6 linked regions of the Homo sapiens genome follow. The protein of the gene in region 3 purifies or fractionates together with the protein of the main gene of each other region. This does not show direct contact. Each region holds a gene or a part of one and is shown on either strand. Other genes may lie near its edges. The genes, in order: AP2A2, CLINT1, MAP3K9, DNAJA3, CLTB and NCS1.

The links.
Region 1: the proteins of MAP3K9 (region 3) and AP2A2 purify together in Homo sapiens (affinity purification with mass spectrometry; one large-scale study listed by BioGRID and IntAct). This does not show direct contact.
Region 2: the proteins of MAP3K9 (region 3) and CLINT1 purify together in Homo sapiens (affinity purification with mass spectrometry; one large-scale study listed by BioGRID and IntAct). This does not show direct contact.
Region 4: the proteins of MAP3K9 (region 3) and DNAJA3 purify together in Homo sapiens (affinity purification with mass spectrometry; one large-scale study listed by BioGRID and IntAct). This does not show direct contact.
Region 5: the proteins of MAP3K9 (region 3) and CLTB purify together in Homo sapiens (affinity purification with mass spectrometry; one large-scale study listed by BioGRID and IntAct). This does not show direct contact.
Region 6: the proteins of MAP3K9 (region 3) and NCS1 purify together in Homo sapiens (affinity purification with mass spectrometry; 2 studies listed by BioGRID and IntAct, with this or other methods). This does not show direct contact.

What each region holds. Positions count from the first base shown.
Region 1 is NC_000011.10:984,868-988,405, forward strand, and holds part of AP2A2 (AP-2 complex subunit alpha-2), read left to right. Parts: intron 1-564; coding exon of another isoform or gene 565-567; coding exon 568-715; intron 716-1,917; coding exon 1,918-2,086; intron 2,087-3,538. UniProt on the Homo sapiens protein: Component of the adaptor protein complex 2 (AP-2). Adaptor protein complexes function in protein transport via transport vesicles in different membrane traffic pathways.
Region 2 is NC_000005.10:157,800,132-157,803,669, forward strand, and holds part of CLINT1 (clathrin interactor 1), read right to left. Parts: coding exon 3,519-3,538; intron 1-3,518. UniProt on the Homo sapiens protein: Binds to membranes enriched in phosphatidylinositol 4,5-bisphosphate (PtdIns(4,5)P2). May have a role in transport via clathrin-coated vesicles from the trans-Golgi network to endosomes. Stimulates clathrin assembly.
Region 3 is NC_000014.9:70,732,980-70,736,517, forward strand, and holds part of MAP3K9 (mitogen-activated protein kinase kinase kinase 9), read right to left. Parts: intron 3,051-3,538; coding exon 2,982-3,050; intron 1,520-2,981; coding exon 1,407-1,519; intron 820-1,406; coding exon of another isoform or gene 778-819; intron 364-777; coding exon 1-363. UniProt on the Homo sapiens protein: Serine/threonine kinase which acts as an essential component of the MAP kinase signal transduction pathway. Plays an important role in the cascades of cellular responses evoked by changes in the environment.
Region 4 is NC_000016.10:4,439,346-4,442,883, reverse strand, and holds part of DNAJA3 (dnaJ homolog subfamily A member 3, mitochondrial), read right to left. Parts: intron 1,510-3,538; coding exon 1,309-1,509; intron 617-1,308; coding exon 464-616; intron 1-463. UniProt on the Homo sapiens protein: Modulates apoptotic signal transduction or effector structures within the mitochondrial matrix. Affect cytochrome C release from the mitochondria and caspase 3 activation, but not caspase 8 activation.
Region 5 is NC_000005.10:176,406,514-176,410,051, reverse strand, and holds part of CLTB (clathrin light chain B), read left to right. Parts: intron 1-3,343; coding exon of another isoform or gene 3,344-3,514; exon of another isoform or gene 3,515-3,538. UniProt on the Homo sapiens protein: Clathrin is the major protein of the polyhedral coat of coated pits and vesicles.
Region 6 is NC_000009.12:130,224,391-130,227,928, reverse strand, and holds part of NCS1 (neuronal calcium sensor 1), read right to left. Parts: intron 1,541-3,538; coding exon 1,442-1,540; 3' UTR 1,425-1,441; intron 1-1,424. UniProt on the Homo sapiens protein: Neuronal calcium sensor, regulator of G protein-coupled receptor phosphorylation in a calcium dependent manner. Directly regulates GRK1 (RHOK), but not GRK2 to GRK5. Can substitute for calmodulin. Stimulates PI4KB kinase activity.

The sequences.
Region 1 (3,538 bases), on a different chromosome or scaffold from region 3:
ATTCATGGACCTTTCTGCCAGTGCTGCTGTATGCGCTGGCTTTCGTGGAGCAGTTATTGCAGAGCCTACAGTTTTGTTAGTGTTTGGGTCTATTTGTGCTTTTATAGTATCAGATTTGTGCAGGTTTTCTTTTTGAGATGGAGTCTCCCTTTGTTGCCCAGGCTGGAGTGCAGTGACGCGACCTCAGCTCACTGCAACCTCTGCCTCCCGGGTTCAAGCGATTCTCCCACCTCATCTTCCTGAGTAGCTGGGATTACAGGCACCTGCCATCATACCCGGCTAACTTTTGCGTTTTTGTAGAGACGGGGTTTCACCATGTTGGCCAGTCTGTTCTTGAACTCCTGACCTCAGGTGACTGGCCTGCCTCGGCCTCCCAAAGTGCTGGGATTACAGAAGTGAGCCACCGTGCCCGGCCTGTCTCAGTTTTGTAAATGCTTCCAGCTGGGTACACAAATGTGAATGAACTATATTAAAAATGCTCTCATGATGTATGGGTGCAGCCGGGAGGGGCAGGGTGGGCTGCGGGCCACTGGAGACTGGTGAGCACCGTTCTGTCTTGCCCAGAAGACCCTGCAGTGCGAGGCCGCCTGACTGAGTGCCTGGAGACCATCCTGAACAAAGCCCAAGAACCGCCCAAGTCGAAGAAGGTCCAGCACTCCAACGCGAAGAATGCCGTGCTCTTCGAGGCCATCAGCTTAATCATTCACCATGACAGGTGTGTCGGCTGCCTGTGGAGAGGCTTCGTCTCGCGCACACACACACGTTCCTTCTCGTTGGCACGAGACTGGGCGGATCATGTCTGGTTTGTCCACTCCATGGGCCTCCCCTTCGTCCTGCCTCTGTGCTCCCTGCCGGATGCTTTTTTTCTTTCTGTGCAGCCCGGCCCCTCCTGCTCTGAGCTCACCGTGGATTGCTTTGGTGACTGTGGTCTCATCCCACACGAGGGCCTTTTCCTCCTTCCCCTGAGCATCCCCACTCCTGACTGGCTTCTCATGTAGTGGAACAGAGAGGAGACGGGTGGGGTGGGGGGTGTGCGCGCATGTCCCGTGGCTTTGCTGGATGTGGAGCCGCACTTGGTGGGTCCAGGGTCGCAGGGCAGTGCTGGAAACGTCTGTGCCCATCCACGAAGCGCAGAGGCGCAGGGTGGCGGTCGCTCCACACAGCCTGGAGGGTCTGCCTCCTCTGCTCCCACGCCTTCTCTGCTCAGCAGTTGCGGCGCACCACATGTGGTCTGGCGTGGGTCTTGCGTGTGGGGCCATGCTTTAGGGTCCTGTGAGAATGAGATCGCAGTTCTCACCAGGCTCCCAATAATGAGGGCACGTGCCAGGCTGTGGGCAGACGCTCTCTACAGCTTGTGAACACCACCCATTTGCTACTACAGCATTTTTACAAATGATGAAAACTCAGTCTGAGAGTCACACTTCAGAACTGAGAGTTATTAAAACTGAAATTTCCCATTTTGGAGAAAGCTCTGTTGTTATGTGAGGAGAAGCCACATCCTGAGGAGACAGTAGAGTCAGTGGGGCAGCAGCCGCGCTCCCGGCCTTCTCGGCCTTCTCCCTGCCCTGGGCTGGTGCCTCTGGCTGAGACCCCATTGCCGGTCACAGCTTGACCGGCCTCCCGCGGGCCTGATGCAGATTGAGGCTCAGGAGGTGCTGGGAAGGCTCCAGTGGACACACGGGCTGCTGACTCACTGTGGGGATGCACAGGATGGACACAAAATGGATGTCAGGGGTGGGGGTCGGGCGTCATCTGCATCTGGGGAGGCCCCCGAGTTCCCACTTGAGCAGTGTGGTGGCGGTGAGTGCCGTGTGACTTTGCTGTCTGCCATCTGGACCCGTCGGGGAACGCAGACTCTGTCCAGTTTGTGTTGCACTTGCTGAGGAAACCCCACCCACTTCCCCTCCCTCCACACAGTGAGCCGAACCTGCTCGTCCGTGCCTGCAACCAGTTGGGCCAGTTTCTGCAGCACCGCGAGACCAACCTGCGCTACCTGGCCCTGGAGAGCATGTGCACGCTGGCCAGCTCTGAGTTCTCCCATGAGGCTGTCAAGACGCACATCGAGACGGTCATCAACGCCCTGAAGGCGAGTGCCCTGTCCTTGGGTTCTGCTCACTCCCTGAGCAGGTGCCGTGGGTCTTCCTGTGAAGGCTGGGGGTACGCAGTGCCTCCTGACTCCCCGCAGAGATGGAGGTGGTGCTGGTGCTGCTGGCCTCCGCCTGTCACCTACTCTTGGGAGGTCACACCACTGTTGAGGGCCATGCTGCCTGGAGATGGCCGGGTTGGCCCTGCTGTCCTGGTTAGGCTGAGCAGAGGAGTCTCTGGCAGCCCTTTCCCTGCTGGGGGCAGCCCCCGTGTGCCATCCTGCGCGTGCATAGTGCTGACAAGTAGAAATGGTTCTTCTTGGTAGAAAGATGAAATTTTTTTCCCTTATCTCCAAGAAAATCCCCCTTTTACAAAGGAAACTCACTTTGTTCGGGGATTAAAATTTCAGAGTTGGGGCCGGGCGCGGTGGCTGACGCCTGTAATCCCAGCACTTTGGGAGGCCGAGGCGGGTGGATCACAAGGTCAGGAGATCGAGACCATCCCGGCTAACACGGTGAAACCCCGTCTTTACTAAAAATGCAAAAAAAAATTAGCCGGGCGTGGTGGCGGCCGGTGCCTGTAGTCCCAGCTACTCAGGAGGCTCAGGCAGAAGAATGGCTTGAACCCAAGAGGCGGAGCTTGCAGTGAGCCGAGATCGCGCCACTGCACTCCAGCGTGGGCGACAGAGCGAGACTCCGTCTCAAAAAAAAAAAAAAATTTCAGAGTTGGAAGAGCCCAGTTGAGGTTGGCCATTGCCAGCCTTTGCGAGTCTCCAGAGCGACCCCGAGGGTTCGTTCCACATAGGGGACCCTGCGGTGTGTCCACCAAGTCCCTAGTCACCGGTGCACATGCGTTAGGGAGTGGGAGGCGGGGAGCTGCATGTCCCCCATCTGGCTCAGCCTCAGGCTGTGGCAGGGCTGCTCCCAGTCCCCCGCACGTCTGCGTGCAGCTCACAGATATTCCGGGTGGTGTGCAAGGGGCTCGTGGTGGGCATTTGGTATTCTGGATTCTTCTTGGTCCTGGTTTTGGTGTTTGTTTTAGTCAATCCCTATTGTCAGAAGGGCTGGACACTCATTTGCACACGGCCAGTGCTAGCGCTGGTGGTGCCCACTCTCCTGCCTTTGTTGGGAGCAGAGCTCGGGCTTTCTCGTGCTGCAGAGCCTCCTGGGGGCCCATCAGCACGGGCTCTGGGGTGGGGCGTGAGGACCTGCCTTGGGGCAGCTCCGTGTCCGAGGCAGTGGGGTCTTTGGCTGCATGGAAGGGAGTCCTTGATGGCCTGCACCAGGCAGTGCGCTCAGTCCTAGCGAAGCTGGCCCTTGTGGAGGGCAAGGGAGGCATGGACGAGCGGGCAGAATCCAGGCAGTGCGCTGGGTCCTAGCGAAGCTGGCCTGTGCGGGAGGGCCGGGCCAGCAGGCGGAACTCTATTCCGGGCTGTCCAGACACACGTGGCCCG
Region 2 (3,538 bases), on a different chromosome or scaffold from region 3:
AAATCCTGATAGTTAGGTTTTACATATATATTTTTAAACTTGGTAAGATATTCTACAATGATTTTACCATATATACTTTTGAGAATGCTAAGAACATGTAATCACACACACACAAAAATCTGAACATTTTCTCAGAGGATATATTTAGCTGGTGAGTGGTACAGATGCCATATCTGCTTAGCTTTACAGTTTGTGCCCACATTACTTGCATGATGGTACTATTATAAATATGGGCACATCTGGTAAATGACACCCAAATGACATACCAAATAGCAATGTTAATATGGTAGATTCTTATACCTTCTCGTGTAAGTGCTAAAGATTTAATGCCCAATTTCCTTTCACTGCTGAATTCAATTTAAAATATATTATTAAAATATTTAAATAGAGATTGGGAGTAACTAAATTTATGTACTGATTGAAGAGGGAGCTGCACAAACTGGTTAAACATACGGTTTCAAATAGGAGATAACTTTAATTTTAAAAAATTCTTCTAATATCAATCTCTATTAGTTGCTTTTTATTAAGATAAAATAAAATTTAAGGCAAGAAACCTCCTAGATTTCATTCAAACTTTCTCAGTTACTATATTAATATCAATTGCTACTTCTATTTAATTAGTCAAACTACTGTTTGCACTGGAGAAGACAAACCACTCAAAGGTTCCTTGCCAAGTAAAGGAAGCATGTTGGTATTTAATAAATCTCTCTGTTCAAAGCAATCTTGATGTCACAGAGGAAAAGTTACATCCACCCATCTGACCTTCCTAGTTAATTCTTCTCTGATTGCTCCATTAAAACTTTTCACAGATGCATGAAAGGGGCCCTTTAAATATTTCATGCCAGGAAGTCCAAAATAGTTGATATTCTGTGACACTATATCTGTATTATATGACTACATGCTAACTACCAGTTAATTCTACAGTTCAAATCTTAAACATATAAAAATATATCACATAAATTGTTACACAACTAATGTAGCTGTCCGTAACCTTGGGCATTACAGTCCAATCAAGTTTAATGAATAATTTTAGGAACAGTTTGCAGTTACAGAAAAACGGGAAAGGGAATTGAAGAATTTCAGAAAGTAGGCTGGCCAGGCATGGTGGCTCACGCCTGTAATCCCAGCACTTTGGGAGGCCAAAACAGGTGGATCACCTGAGGTCAGGAGTTTGAGACCAAGCTGGCCAACATGGAGAAACCCTGTCTCTACTAAAAATACAAAAATCAGCCGGGCGTGGTGGCGCATGCCTGAAATTCCAGCTACTCAGGAGACTGAGGCAGGAGAATCGCTTGAACCCGGGAGGCAGAGGTTGCAGTGAGTCAAGACTGTGTACTGCACTCCAGCCTGGGCAACAAGGGCGAAACTCTGTCTCAAAAAAAAAAATAGAGAAAGAAAGTAGGTCAAACCAGATGTCTGGGCTGGGTGCAGTGGCTCACACCTGTAATCCCAGCACTTCGGGAGGCTGAGGCAGGCAGATCACCTGAGGTCAGGAGTTCGAGACCAGCCTGGCCAACACAGTGAAACTCCGTCTCTACTAAATATACAAAAATTAGCCAGGCATGGTGGCAGGTGACTGTAATCCCAGCTACTCGAGAAGCTTAGGCAAGAGAATTGCTTGAATAAAGTTCATGCCTAATCCAAGAATTTTAACATAGTAGGTAAGGAGGAGGAAATAATAGGGGGCTTTATATTACATTAATTATACTAAACTATCAGTGAAAAGTAATTTCCAGCATAGACTTACACTTAAAGGTTAAGTTAAAGTTTTTTTTTTTTTGAGACAAGAGTCTTGCTCTGTCACTCCAGCTGGAGTGTAGTGGCATGATCTCAGCTCATTGCAAACTCCACCTCCTGGGTTCAAGCGATTCTCCTGCCTTAGTCTCCTGAGTAGCGGGGATTAAAGGTGCCCATCACCACGCCAAACTAATTTTTGTAGTTTTAGTAGAGACAGGGTTTCACCATGTTGGCCATGCTGGTCTTGAACTCCTGACCTCAGGTGATCCGCCTGCCTCGGCCTCCCAAAGTGCTGGGATTACAGGTGTGAGCCACTGTGCACAGCCACAATTCGGCTTTGAAAAATCATTACACACAACTGGGAATAATAAATTTACTTTGCACATTAGTCATACCCCCATCTTACTGTCTACATTTTAATGTGAAATGAACTTAGGCTTGGAAAGACTGTCTTTAAACAGAAGATGTATTTGTTAAACTATTTTGACACGTCACACAATAGTTTATTAAAACTCCATAATCATCAAATACAACCCTAAAAATATCAATTTTCTTGAAAACAATTGATCAGAAATTACTCAAAATCTAGCACATACTGGAAATCAAACTGAAGAAATCATCAATCTCATCTATGAGAAATTCAAGGTAAACAGTTCTTTTGCTGTAGCCCTCTCTTTTTTTTTTTTTTTTCCGAGATGGAGTTTTTCACTGTTGTTGCCCAGGCTGGAGTGCAATGGCGCAATCTCCGTTCACTGCAACCTCCGCCTCCCGGGTTCAAGTGATTCTCCTGCCTCAGCCTCCCGAGTAGCTGGGATTACAGGTACCTGCCACCATACCCGGCTAATTTTTGTATTTTCAGTAGAGACAGGGTATCACCATGTTGGCCAGGCTGGTCTCGAACTCCTGATCTCAGGTGATCCACCTCCCTCGGCCTCCCAAAGTGCTGGGATTACAGGGGTCAGCCACCACGCCCAGCCGCCCTCTTTAAATATGTTTGGTAGTTACATACTTTCAGAGAATGTCATTCCTCTGACTGAAGCACTTGCCATTGTTTATCACTAGATAACTATTTGTGACTCTGATTAATGATTATTTTCTCCACTTGACCTTCGCATGAGGACAACAACTCTGTTTTTTACAAGCACCCAGATCAGTGTCTGGTTCAACAAATATTTGTTCAATTAAAAGAATAAAAAGTTAAATGATCTCTAGGCATGCCCAAGGTGACAGCTGCAATTAAAATTTAGGGAAAGACAGTAAAATGCGCAGAGCAGTACCTTTTGCTTATAAAGAAAGTAAAGGCAACAGTTTAAATGCAATTTTTTGTTTCTCCAAGTTAATCTTAAAAATTAAAAATGGAAACTATAGATTCCAAAATCTATGATGAAAAATTTCAGAAAGTACATGATGCCTTGAAATACTATTTATTATTAATTAGGGAAGACACAGTACATCAGGTATGAGGAGTCATTAAAATCTAAGTATGATAATGATTTGAGGATACTATTATTAACCACCAATAAGTACTGACCACAAACAAAGTTTTGCTAGTCTGAGGGTGGGTCAGAAAAAGGTATAAAATAGGGATAGAGAAATGGGTGTACATATAAAAAGATAAGCAAAAATAACACAATGATTCCAAATAATGCTCAAGACTCACTAATTTCATATAAAAAATGAACCCAATGCAAATAAGTAATCTTATTTTTCAATCTATCTTTTATTTGGCATTTTAAAAAATGACTCTCAAACCAAAAGAAAAGGCCAATGTAGAAGCTTACCTGTTGACTGGCTGGTGCCA
Region 3 (3,538 bases):
GACCCTCCCGTCTTTTCTTCTCCTCCCGGGCTGGTGGCTCAGGCTCCTCCAGGGGAAGCAGCTGGCACTTGCCAGCTTCCAGCAAGTCAAACCCTAGGCCTGTGGCTGCCAGAACAGCCCCACAGCCGAGCAGAGCCACCTCGCAGCGGCGGTGGTGGGCACCGCCCCGCTTGAGGCTGTTGGTTGGCGTCAGCTGAGGGGTACTCGTGGCCGAGTTGACTGGGGTGGGCTCCTCATGGATTCCATCACTGGAGGGGCCATCGCCATCCTCTCCACGAGGGAATGGGATACAGAGGTAGGACTGGCTGGGTGAATGCTGTAGGCGACTCTCTCCACTCCCTGGGCCTTCACTGTCCTCATCCTCTGTGAAGATGACAAGAGTGGAAGAGAAACAGGAAATGGAAATGAGGTGGCAGGAATAAGAATCTGGCCCTTTCCCCTCACCCCAGGCCTCCTGTCTCAGTCTCAGGGACACAAAGGTTCAATGGTGTGATGAGCAGGACATGGAATTGAACACTGAACCAAGGGGGCTTTATCCACCCCCCAACACAGGGAAACCACTCTCCATTCCAGAGCCCATTTCCTTAGAGCAGAATAAAAGATCCGCTAATTTGCCATTTCTTTCATAAGGGATCTGTGATAGTGACTTGGGTATCCACTTGACTGGACTGAGGGATGCCTGCATGGCTGGTGAAGCACAGTTGCTGGGTGTGTCTGTGAGGCTGTTTCCAGGGGAGACTAAGATGGGAGTCAGGGGGCAGGGAGAGGAAGACCCACCTTCAATGTCGATGGGCACCACCCAACTGGCTGCCAGCAAGGCTAGAACAAAGCAGGCAGAAAAAGGGGGATGCTCAGTTTGCTGAGCTTCCTCTCTCTGTTTCTCCCTTCTGGAGAGGGACACTTTTTCTCCTCTTGCCCTTGGAAATCAGAGTCCAGGTTCTTCAGCCTTTGGACTCTCAGACTTGTAACTGAGGCCTTTCGGAGGCTCTCAGGCCTCAGACTGGGAGCTGCACTGCTGGTTTCCCTGGTGTTAAGGCTTTCAAACTGGGATTGAGCCACTCTACTGTCTTCCCTGGGAGCCATACTACAGGCTTTTCTCATTCTCCAGCTTGCAGACGGCCTGTCATGGGACTTTGCCTTTGTAACTGTGTGAGACAATTCTCCCTAATAAACTTCCTTTTGGTTGCTATTGGTTCTCTCCCTCTGGAGAACCCTGACTAATACCGGCCCCTTAATACAAGTGTAGTATGAGTTTCTAGAACACTGAACATTCTAGAACAAAAACATTCCCAATGTTTCCTCCATGAAGCAGTGCTAGGGGTCCTTAAATGGTCCTAGAAGCTTGGGCAAGAATGCCCCCAGGGAGCAGGGAGACAGCCAAGACTCTCAAGAGGAGCTATGCTTACCCATCTCCATAAGGCTGGTGAACCCTGGCAGGGCCGGGCTACTCCTTGGGCCCTTCACCAGGTTGGGGGCACTGGACGACCACTGCTTATATCCATCTACCAGGGACTTGAGGCTGAATCAGAGGAAAAGAGGAAACTGTCAGAACTGGTTACCTTTCTTACTTGACCCTCAGCTCCATGGGTCTATGGAGACGTTTCTCCCTGCCTGCTTCATTCTACCAAAGAACCTTGGAGTACATACAGGCAATGACTCTTACCAAGCCCACCTGCTTCACAAACAGAAATGCACATGCTCCAGGGAAGAAAAGGGCAATGACATGACCCATCCCCCTCACATGCTGCTGTGGAACTGTAGAAAGAACTAGTGGGCAAGCTGGCAAGCAGACAGAAAGAATAAGGATGGCCCTGCTGGCTGGGGGTCTTGCCTGAGCCCATCTCAAGAGAGAAGCACTCGAAGCAGACACTGGACACAACACATTCATGGCATGACAGTTACGGTGATGCAAAGACCTGCGAAGCCAGGCAAGCACCGGGCAGCCGAGCTAGCAGAGGTGGACCAGGCTACTCCACATAAGGCATTTCTCAGGCTTTCCTTCCAAGCTTTATGGCATGCTTAGGCAACTTTCAAAGCCATCCCCTTTTTAAAAGGCAAAACCAACCCACAAAGCTGCACCAACCCAGTGCACTGTGGGACAGACCTACGTGGGTAGTGCACAGTGCTGAAGCAGAGCCCTTGGTCTGTCTGGGGGTGGAGAGACAGAGGACAGGAGCTCGCTTTCAAATCCCTGTCATCAGCCCATATGGAAAGCCGGTAACTCTCCGAGGATACAGCCTGGGCACCCTGCCAACCACTTTGTAGGAGGGGGGAACCAGAGGCCTAGAAGCACTGGTCTTTTCCCTAGAGGACAGTAAAAGGGAGGACTGAGGAATCTGTGGGCTATGGTTGCCCTGGAAATATTGGGATTATGACCAGAGTGGCTCTTTTTTTTTTTTTTTTTAAGTCTAGGAAGAATCATTCAACTAAAGACCACTTTCCCCAAAGTCCCAGCCATCTTGAGAGAGACAGAGGACCAACTTTTTCGCTGTTCAGAATTCTGTTTCAAGTGCTATCAGAAATACCAGCAAATTAAAGTACATCCCAACCACCACTGGTTTCAACCAAAATATAGTCAGAGATAAGCCTGCTGCCAAACCCACAGCCTGGGGCTTCCTACTGAGACTCTCGTAACATCACTTCCAGCTCTGGATCCAGGAAAATCCAGATTAGTAAAGTCAAAACCAGTGCTGAAGACCAAAGGATAAATAGCCACATATCTAAGCCTCTCTAAAACCAAGAGTGCCAGGAGTATCCTAATTGGAGTGGTCAGTGGAGTGAAGAATATGGTAAAATTAGATCAACACAGGAATTTTCCCAAGGTGCACAATGGTACTGCTTAAAACAAAAACAAAAACAAAAAAGTCAGTTCAGCCCTGGCAATAACGAGGCTTGATTCTATGGGGTATGCTGTAAGAACAAGGAAATGGAAGGGAGATTGTTACCAGGACAGCTGGTGAAAGGGTGAAGATGAGACTCACCCCAAGTGGAAATGTGGAGATTCTGATGGGGTACTTAAACCATTAGCTTTCTCACGTCTCTGAGGGGATCTTCAATGAATAAAGAGAATCAGTAGCAGGCAATGGAGGGCACATCCAGCTCAGCCTCTCCCACACCAAAACACCCAAGGCTGGATTCACACCACATCGCCAGCTGCCTTCCCACTGTCCAGACACAAAGCCCACACCATGAAAGAATCTTAACAAGATGGTCCTGTTTAAGCCAAGACAGGCCCAGGACAAAGATCCCTGGGCAGCTGCAGCACGGTTGCAGGGGGACTGTGAATCCATAGATACCCAAGCAGTCTATAGACAGGTATGCATGTTTTGGACAAATATGTATTATTTTTTAAAAGGATGAGGATGCAAAACTCACTTAACATTACTGAATTCAAAATGGCTTTTGTTCATCACGTGTTTTCTTTAGTCAAAAGGTACTAAAACCAGAAATAATATCACATAGAAGTTCTCAAAATTTCTGACATTAAAGGGGTCTTCACTCAAGTCTGGATAGAATATACTTTTATTTCTTCAATAGG
Region 4 (3,538 bases), on a different chromosome or scaffold from region 3:
CTAGGAACCCAGGTGCAGGGCCTCAATCTGTTCATCTGATTTTCTAGAACACACAAACTTCTGCACTCCAGATCATCAACTTGACCACACGACACTGAAAAATATGATACCGCCTGTCTACAGAAGTACCTGAAGACTCCTGGGAGCTGAACAGTACATTTAAAAAAGATTATTTCCCCTTGAATTACCAAAGCAATTGTTAGAAAAATAAAGAAGAAAGTGACAACTGGATGCAATCCCCCGCCCCGCCCCCGGAGCTGCTGTGCTCTGGTTGCTGAGCCTGTGGTATCAGGGAAAGAGGAGCACAGGCTCGTCTCCTCAGGGTCACGGGGGAAAGACAGCCAGGCTGAGTTCACCAACTCCCCCAATTCCCAGCATACGTTCTCTGGGAGCAGTGCCACAACCAGCTCTTCTCAGTCAGTGGTGCAAGCCGTGGGAGGTGGAGTCTCGGGCAGAGCCTTACCATGCCGGAGCCGCCACAGTAGTGGCAATGCTGCACCTTGGTGCCGGGCTCGTTCCCCTTGCCGTTGCAGCGCTCACACGTGTCCATGATGTTCACGGTGAACTCCTTGTTGACCCCCTTTGCAGCTTGATTGAATGTCAACTCCATGAAGTACTAAAGAAACCAAGGGACAGCCTGTCAACTTTTGTTTGCAACGACCAAAACTGACGCTCGGCTCTAAAGGGAAAGGAGGGTACTGGCCCACATTTTCAGTCACTCTTTCACCACTGTACTTACTTGCACTCTGCCAAGTAAGCATAGGTAGGACTCACTGAACGAATTCTGCCCTACTCTTTGGGATTTTTAAGAGATAATGTATGACTTAAATGAAAACGTACTTTCAACAGACTGAAAATGTTCACAGATAAATACTCGTACATGGCACTTAAAAACAGCCTGAATGATCCACAATCATAATTTAGATCATAAATATATCCCCTCTCTCTTCCACTCTGACAGTGTCTTATAAGGACATAAATGAGAGAGGATCAGCAGTGCCTTCCCACCGGACAGAACTCTCCTGGAATACTGTAGCAGATGAGAGACAACACTCACACCCTCATGGGCTCTGAAAGCCTTAGGTGCTACCTCATTATGCAACTGTTAAGAATACCATCAGAATGGACATACTCATTACTACCTATGCGATTTTTCAAATACTGAAATTATTTTCTACTAAAATGGCTGCCTCCAGATCACTCCATTTAAGCTGCCTTGCCTTTCTGAGAAACAGAAACTGATAAAAAAATTTGTTTGACCCATACTTAGTCTAAAATTTGAATAATTCTTCCAAGTGAGGAACTTACTTCCTGAGGCTGATCAAACACGGTCTGGAAATCTCCAAATGAAGAGGATGAGAACTCGCCAAAGATCTTCCTGAACAGCTCCTCGGGGTCCACAGTGGGGCCTCCCTTCCAGTAGCTATGCTGGGAGCCGCTGGCCCCAGGATCGAAGCCTGCAGAGCCGTAGGCATCGTACTGCTTCCTCTTCACCTCATCACTCAAAACCTACAGTGAAAGGCAGAGCCACTGGGCATCCCAGGTCTACCAAGGCCCAGGAATACAGACAAGAGTTCACAGCAAATAAGGCAGCCATAACATTTATTAAGTGGCCCTGTGTGCAAACACATCCTATGAGGTTGGGGTGGGCCTGTGACTAGCACCTAGAAGAGGGATGAGATGACCAAACTGAATGCTAAGTGTAGGGCGTGAAGTGCTTCCAAAAGTCTCACGAACTCTCCCGCCGTCGCGCATGCTGGGAAAATGTTTGTGTTGATCCTCGCTTGACCTCACAGGCACCCTGGATTCTTCACAGATTCACACTTCACCTCTCTCCTCAGGGGACATTACCTCGTAGAGAATTTATGCTTCCTACCCTTACCTTCATCGAAAGGTTTTCTGCAAGCCAGAACAACCGGAGTAACAGAAGTAACAGCAACGACAATAGCAGTGGTGCAATCCTAGCTCACTGCAGCCTCAACCTCCCAGGTTGAAGCAATCCTCCTGCCTCAGCCTCCACAGTAGCTGGGTCTACAGGTGCACACCACCAGTCCTGGCAAATTGTTTTAAGTTTTTGTAGAGACAGGGTCTTGCTATGTTGCCCAGGCTGCTTTCAAACTCCTGGCCTCAAGCGATCCTCCCACTTCGACCTCCCAAAATACTGGGATTACAGGCATGAGCCACTGGGCCTGGCCCACAAAACTGTTAATAAGGACTAACTACCTCAAAAAGGGGGATTAGGGAGGGACAAGGAAAAATGTAGTATTCACTTTGTATCTTTTTTTTTTTTTTTGAGACGGGAGTCTTGCTCTGTCGCCAGGCTGGAGTGCAGTGGCGCGATCTCGGCTCACTGCAACCTCTGCCTCTCGGGTTCAAGTGATTCTCCTGCCTCAGCCTCCCGAGTAGTTGGGACTAAAGACATGCACCACCACGCCCAGCTAATTTTTTTGTATTTTTAGTAGAGACAGGGTTTCACCACGTTTGCCAGGATGGTCTCGATCTCTTGACCTCGTGATCCGTCTGCCTCAGCCTCCCAAAGTGCTGGGATTACAAGCGTGAGCCACCGTGCCTGGCCCTCACTTTGTATCTTTTTTTTATGTGTTTGTCTTACTTTTTTTTTCTTTAATTAAAAAGACACTGCCCTAGGCTGAGTATGGTGGCTCACACCTGTAATCCCAGGACTTTGGGAGGCCAAGGCAGGTGGACTGCTTGAGTTCATGAGTTCAAGACCAGCCTGGGCAACATGGTGAAACCCCATCACAAGAAAAATACAAAAAAATTAACCAAGAATGGTGGTGCACGCCTATAGTTCCAGCTACTTGGGAGGCTGAGGTGGGAGGATTGCTTGAGCACGGAGGTTGAGGTTGAGGCTGCAGTGAACCGTGATTGCACCATTGCACTCCAGCCTGGGCAACAAAGTGAGACACTATCTCAAAAAAATAGGCACTATCCTTAAGGCCAAACAGAAAAGAGTACGCTTCCTCCAAAGGAAAAGACACTTCCACCTAGAATGGAGGGGGACTAAGAAAGCAGGTGGAGGACAGCTTGGTGCCTAGGGTAACTTTTAGGGCACCCAGTTAAGATGCAAAGGAGGAAGGCTGGCAGAGGAGGAGTCAGGTGGGAGTTCATGACTTCCTGGTGGGTTTTATCTCCTGGTTCCAGCCCTTCCCAAGGAATTGCTGCTCTTAGGTTCTGAGGCTCGGTCCGTTTAATAACATCCCCCTTGAAGACAGAAGTCAGCAACACGGTGGATTAGGACTCTCCAAAACTCATGCCCCTGGCAGAAACATCAGATCAACTAACCATGTGGAAAAACACATTCACAAGAATAACACCCCCCCGCCCCATTAAAAATTGAATCTTCTGGGTGCAGTGGGGAACCTGTAGTCCCAGCTACTCAGGAAGTTGAGGTTGAGGCAGGAAAACTGCTTGAGCCCAAGAGTTTGAGACTGCAGTGAGCTGTGATCTCGCCACTACACTCCAGCCTAGGTAACAGAGTGAGACCTCAACTCTTTTTTTTTTTTTTTTGATTGGGAGT
Region 5 (3,538 bases), on a different chromosome or scaffold from region 3:
ATTGATGGGCAGTAGCCTCAGGTTGCCCATGGTGATGTCTGGTTTTGGGAGGGAGAGGTCAAGTGGCCCACAGCAGCATGAGATGAAGGCAGCGCAAGGCCTTCCCTCACCACTGACGGGAGGCAGAACCCAGGCCATCTCCACACACAGGGCGGGCCCTTTGATCCAGAGATTCCACTTCCAGAATTTTCCCAAAGGAAATAATTGGACAAGGCCACCCAGATTCTTTGCAGGGTTATTTATAATGGCAGACAATTTGGAGACAACCTAAGTGTCCAGCATCAGGGAACTGAATAGATAGATTAGAAAACCAGGCTGTTGTTAAAAAGGGCAATCAGGGCCGGGTGCAGTGGCTGACGCCTGTAATCCCAGCACTTTGGGAGGCTGAGGTGGGTGGATCACGTGAGGTCAGAGTTCAAGACCAGCCTGGCCAACATAGTGAAACCCCGTCTTTACTAAAAATACAGAAAATTAGCCAGTCATTGTGGCAGGTGCCTGTAATTCCAGCTACTCGGGAGGCTAAGGCAGGAGAATCACTTGAACCCAGAAGGTGGAGGTTGCAGTGAGCTGAGATTGTGCCATTGCTCTCCAGCCTGGGAGATGAGAGTGAAACTCTGTCTGAAAAAAAAAAAAAAAAAAAAAAAAGGGCAATCAGATCTTCCTGTATTGACGTGAAAAGATGTCCACAATATATTAAGTGGAAAAAGCAGCTTGCAGAATAATATACACAGTATGGTCCTTTTTTTTTTTTTTTTTTTCAATTTTAAAAATATGTTTGGGCTGGGCGTGGTGGCTCATGCCTGTAACCCTAGCACTTTGGGAGGCCAAGGCAGGTGGATCATGAGGTTGGAAGATTGAGACCATCCTGGCTAACACGGTGAAACCGCACCTCTACTAAAAATACAAAATTAGCTGGGTGTGGTGGCACAAGCCTATAATCCTAACTACTTGGGAGGCTGAGGCAGGAGAATAGCTTGAATCCGGGAGTGGGAGGTTGCGGTGAGCCGAGATCACGCCACTGCACTCCAGCCTGGGCAACAAGAGCAAAACTCTATCTCAAAAAAATAAAACTAAAGGTTTGCACTACATATCTGAAAGGATGTGTACCAGCTGTTAACAATGGTTAGCCCCAAGGGTGGGGTGGGATGGGGATAAGAAAGGGGCATTCACTTTCACTGGGTTGTTTACAAATTCTTTAAGTGTTTTTATCCTGCAAAAAACGAGGAAAACCCAGCCGGGCACGGCGGCTTACGCCTGTAATCCCAGATTTTGGGAGGCCAAAGTGAGAAGATCATGTGAATCCAGGAGTTTGAGACCAAACTGGGCAACATAGTAAGACCCCATTTCTGCAAAAAATGAAAAATTAGCTGGGGCAATAGTGTGTGCCTATAGTCCCAGCTACTCAGTAGTCTTAGGTGGGAGGATTACAGCTTGAGCTGGGGAGGTCCAGGCTGCAGTGACTATGATTACACTACTACACTTAGCCTGGGTGAGTCTTTTTTTTTTTTTTTTCCTGAGATGGAGTTTTGCTCTTATTGCCCAGGCTGGAGTGCAATGGCACGATCTCGGCTCCCTGCAGCCTCCGCCTCCTGAGTTCAAGTGATTCTCCTGCCTCAGCCTCCTGAGTAGCTGGGATTACAGGCACCCGCCACCACGCCTAGCTAATCTTTTGTATTTTTAGTAGAGATGGTGTTTCATCATGTTGGCCAGGCTGGTCTCGAACTCCTGACCTTCAAGTGATCCACCCACCTCGGCCTCCCAAAGTGCTGGGATTACAGGCACGAGCCACCGTGCCCGGCATGACAGTCTTAAAAAAAAAAAAAAGAGGAAAACCCTAGTAAGTGTATTTCTAGTTAAGACTGCTTCTGTCCGCACCCACCTAACTCTCTTCCCCTTGCATACACACAAATCCATTTTAGTACTCTGAGGGAACTCAGACCACAGAGGCATGCAATAGTCCTCACCTCGGCCCCCCAGCCAGATGCCTGGTGGGGCTAAACCTCCCCTCAGAGCCTTCATTCCCACTCAGACTGGGCCAAAGAGCCTTGATCCTGGGGTCTTTGGCTGTGGGATCTTCTGAGCCCCGCCCTGGAGGAGCTGGCTTCTTGAATCCTCTGGGGGAGTAAACAATACTTATTTTCTTATGTAAGAGGGATGGGCTGGTACCTTATGCAGGGAGACTGGCCAAGTCCTGTTTCTGGAAAATTACTCAACTATCAGCAAGCTGGAAAAGTCCATCTCTAGGACTTCAGCAGCTTCATGTCTAGTTGGGCCCGAGGGAGTCAAAGAATGAGGATTTGCTTCTGTGCAGCTTGGTAGATCATTAAGACTTAGGCTGCCCAGGCTCTCTGGCCACATTCAGAAGGACTTTGCTTGACCCCACAGTTCTGTGTCCTAAAGTGCACCTGGAGCTGGAGATATGCTTGGAACCACAGAAGTATGTAGAACATGGCCGGGCACAGTGGCTCACGCCTGTAATCCCAGCAGTGGGAGGCTGAGGTGGGTAGATCATTTGAGGTCAGGAGTTCAAGACCAGCCTGGCCAACATGGAGAAACCCTGTCTCTACTAAAAATACAAAAATTGGCTAGGCAGGGTAGTGGTTGCCTGTAATCCCAGCTACTCAGGAGGCTGAGGCAGGAGAACTGCTTGAACCCAGAGGCAGAGGTTGCAGTGAGCTGAGATCGCACACTGCACTCCAGCCTGGACGACAGAGCGAGACTTTGTCTCAAAAAAGAAAGTACCTAGAACACTCTGAGCTGGATCATTTACCTTTCCTAAAGATTAGCATCACGAAGCTCAGAGAGGTGAAGTGGTGAATGCAAAGTCACCCAGGAAATCAGCCACTTCTGGAGTGCACCCCATTTGACTTGGCCCCCCGCCTTCTCCCTCCCGACCTGTCAGCCGTGGGTGAGCTGTGGGTGAATCTGAGGAGCCCGGGGCCTCCTTTCCAATCTGAGTGAGAACTCTTATTCTCACTGTTACTAAGAATCACAGCAGGTGTGTTTATTTGTAAATCATATCACATCAGTGCCATCCGAGAATCCTTACAGGCAGGGCAGGGTCACAGATGAGCTGAATCACTCAGAAGCTTAGTGGCAAAGCCCCAGCTTGCCTACATCTCCTGGGCTCCGACCCGGTGTGCTTTGCATTACGACTCTGTTGCTGGAACTGGCTGGCCACAGCGCCTGGGTCACAGGTGGAAAGCCCCAGCTCTTTAGGATTGAGCATAGCAGGTCTGGCCTGCACCTGCAGGGGGAGGAGAAACCTTGGCCTGTGCACACCCAACACTTTCAAGGATCCCAGACAGAGCTTTTGTGCTTCCTTTCTTCCTCTTTTCTGCAGCCCGTGCACCACCAGCGGGTCCAGCTACAAACCCAGTTGCCAATACAGCCTAAGGACGAGCCTGCCCACAACTATTCCAGTTCCATTTGGCACAGCCAGGGGCAGGGACAGAAGGGCCCTGCAGGACTCCGCCTCCCCACCTCTGCACAGATCCTCTCTCCTTTCCCCTAATACTCCCATCATCCTCCTTTTAGC
Region 6 (3,538 bases), on a different chromosome or scaffold from region 3:
CCCAATTTTCCCGGGACTGAGAAGTTTCCTAGAACAGGGAACTTGCACTGCTAAATCCAGGATAGACCTGGGCAAACCCTATTGACAGCTGAACTGCATACTCCTGAGAGTCCTTGAGCCAGAGGCACCCAGCTTAACTGTGCCAAATTCCTAATGTTTGTTCTTAAGCTGCTGTTTGTGGTAATGTAATATGTAGCAATGGATAACTAACCTAGCACATCACAAATGAGCACATTAAAATGGGTGATACACTTATAACAAGGCATTCAACGTCACTGCTTATCAGAGAAATGCAAAGTAAACTTAGAACAAGTTATTACTCCATACTCACAAAAATGGCTAAAATTTGAAAAGACAGAAAATACCCAGTGTTGGCAAGGATGTGGAGCAACTGGAACTCTCATACACTACTAGTGGGACCGCAAAACAGCACAACCACTTTGGAAACTGTTTTCTAGTAACTACCAAAGCTAAATATTACACATATCCTATGTCCCAGCAATTCTACCCTTACATATACACCAACAGCAGGCATCCACTGGTTCACCAGGACGTGGACAAGAACGCTGATCTCTGGACAATACCTTGGACGTTATTCACACCCACTCCCCGCAGACTACATTGAACACTCCACAAAGAAGAGGCAGGAAAAAAGGGGAGAAGGGAGGAGAGGAGAAGGAAAGAAGGGAGACAGCTCTCTACCAGCAACAGGGGCCTCTGCCAGGCGTGCTATCATTCTGTGACAGCTAGGAGCTTAGTTAGGTCTTCAACCGGCTGCTCAGAGAGGGGATAAGAAATTGCTCTCCCAGGTCCCTGGCCCTGGTTGGGAACTAATTTTCAAAGTGTCTTCCACCCAGGACAATTCTTTTCTTTTTTTTTTTTTCTTTTCTTTTTTTTTTTTTTTTTGAGATGGAGTCTCACTCTGTTACCCAGGCTGGAGTGCAGTGGCACGATCTCGGCTCACTGCAATCTCCACCTCCTGGGTTCAAGCGGTTCTCCTGCCTCAGCCTCCCAAGTAGCTGAGACTAGGTGCGCACCACCACGCCCGCCTGATTTTTGTATTTTTAGTAGAGACGGGGTTTCACCATGTTGGTCAGGCTGGTCTTGAACTCCTGACCTGGTGATCCGCCTGCTTCAGCTTCCCAAAGTGCTGGGATTACAGGCGTGAGCCACCGCGCCCAGAAAAATTCTGTTCAAGCAAACTCGCAGGCTGATCTGGGTCTATAAAAATGATCAAAACAGAGGAGCTCTGACCAATTTGAAGGCCCCCCTTCCAGCCTCCTCCTCCCAGCTATGTCCCTGCTAGGCTGACCACAACACCCCCAGAGACCCAGGTAATTACCTGCCAACCGTAGGTGTCCTGCTGCTGGGTTTTCACCCCTGACCCATCCCAGACCCACCCCAGGCCCCGAGTCTGCACTCACCCAGCTCCAGCCTGGGACTATACCAGCCCGTCGTAGAGGGACAGCGCCTGCACAATGGACGGGTCTGCCTTGGAACCCTCCTGGAACTCCTGCAGGGTCAGCTTCCCGTCGGCATTCTGTGAGCAGAGAGAGGCGGCTGAGGGTGCAGGGCCTCCCAGGAGAGGGCTCTAGACAAGCCCAGCCCAGGGCCGGTCCCAAGAGCCCTTCCAAGGTTAGATCAGGAGGGAGGCAACGTGGCTCAGGGCCTACAAGCAGCCAGCACCAGACAGACCTCGGCACTCATGGCAGGGTGGCCTTGGGCCGTGGCCCACCTCTCTGGGCATGTTTCTTCACCTGGGGATGGAGGGTAATTACCTGGCTTCCTCCAGGCACTCGGGTGACAGCTCTGTGCTTGACCAACTGGAAGTGCCCTGTAACTCCACACGTGTCATGGTTAATGCTATTAAACCCCATCAATGTGAGTAACTGACAAGGCTGAGAGCCTCGTGCAGTTCTCTGGGGTCACTCTTGGAAGGGCATTTAAACTGCTCCTGGAGCAGCCCACACTGGACCCTGGGAGACCCGGCAGGGGGCTGGACATGGCTCAGAAAGAGGAATTTTAGTGGGTCTCTCGGGGAGGGGATGTTTGGGCCAGAATCCCTTCCCCGGAGCATCTCTCAAGGAAGCCGGCGGACCACAAGGAAAAGGCCACGGAGAGCACCTACTCGATCTCGGGTATCCAGAGAGGGTAAGTGCCGAAAACAGCGCCGATGAGCACAACCGAGCTGTGCTCAGGGATCGCTCGCTGCGTACACGACATATGCCAAGCTCGGCGCAACCCTCAGTGTATGGAACCCTCACGGCCAAGCCAAGAAGGGGGTGCTGCTCTCATCCCCATTTTACCAGTGAGGAAGCTGAGGCTCCGTCACCTACCCAGGCCCCAGGGCTGGGAAACGGAGAAGTCAGATTCACACCCCAGTCAGTGTGACTACAGGGTCTGTGCTGTTTCCCAAAATGACGGAAGTGCAGACAGGGGGACAGTAAGGAATGTGCGGCCTTGGCCTTAAGCCACGTGGACGCACACCACGAGAAACTTATTATTCCGTGCTCCACACTCTGTCGATAAATCTTTTGATCATTACCAAGACGCCAGCTGGGTCTGAGGCCAGCACGTCTCTACCACTCCTCTAACATGGGCTAATCTCCCTTTTTTAATTAAGAAAGTACAGGCCTCAGGTCAAAGCTTTTAGGGCAAACAGCTGTCTCCAGCCAGAATCTAATAAGCAGCCCTGCGTTACAGGAATTTCTATGATTGACTGATCGATTGATTGATTGAGACAGGGTCTCACTCTGTCACCCAGGCTGGAGTGCAATGGCACCATCACGGCTCACAGCAGACTTGGTTTCTCAGGCTCCAGCCATCCTCCCACTTCAGCCTCCCGAGTAGCTGGGACCACAGGTGCACACCACCACACCCGGCTAATTTTTGTATTTTTTGTAGAGTCGGGGTTTCATCACGTTGCCCAGGCTGGTCTCAAACTCCTGAGCTCAAGTGATCCACTCGCCTTGGCCTCCCAAAGTGCTGGGATGACAGGTGTGAGCCACCGCACCTGACCATTTTATGTTATTTTGCTGAAGGCACGTAACACCTGGATTTCCCTAACGTCATTATTTCAAATTTACATTTAAGTTATTTTAGTTTTAAGTAAGTTTGATTTAAAGAAGGATTCCTTATTTCTTTGGAGTCCCTTTTTTTAGGCTTTTATTTTAGGCTCAAGGATACATGTGCAGGTTTGTTATATAGGTAAATCCTGTGTTGTGGGGGTTTGCTGTACAGACTATTTTGTCACTCAGGTGATAAGCATAGTACCTGATAATAGGTGGGTTTCGATCCTCACCCTCCTCTCACCCTCCACCCTCAAGTAGGCTCCAGTGTCTATGGTTCCTTTTATTTTATTTTTTTTCTTTTGAGACAGTCTCACTCTTATTGCCCAGGCTGGAGTGCAGTGGTGTGATCTCGGCTCACTGCAACCTCTGCCTCCCAGGTTCAAGCAATTCTCCTCCCTCAGCCTCCCGAGTAGCTGGGATTACAGGCATGTGCCATCATGCCTGGATAATTTTTTTTTTTTTTTTTG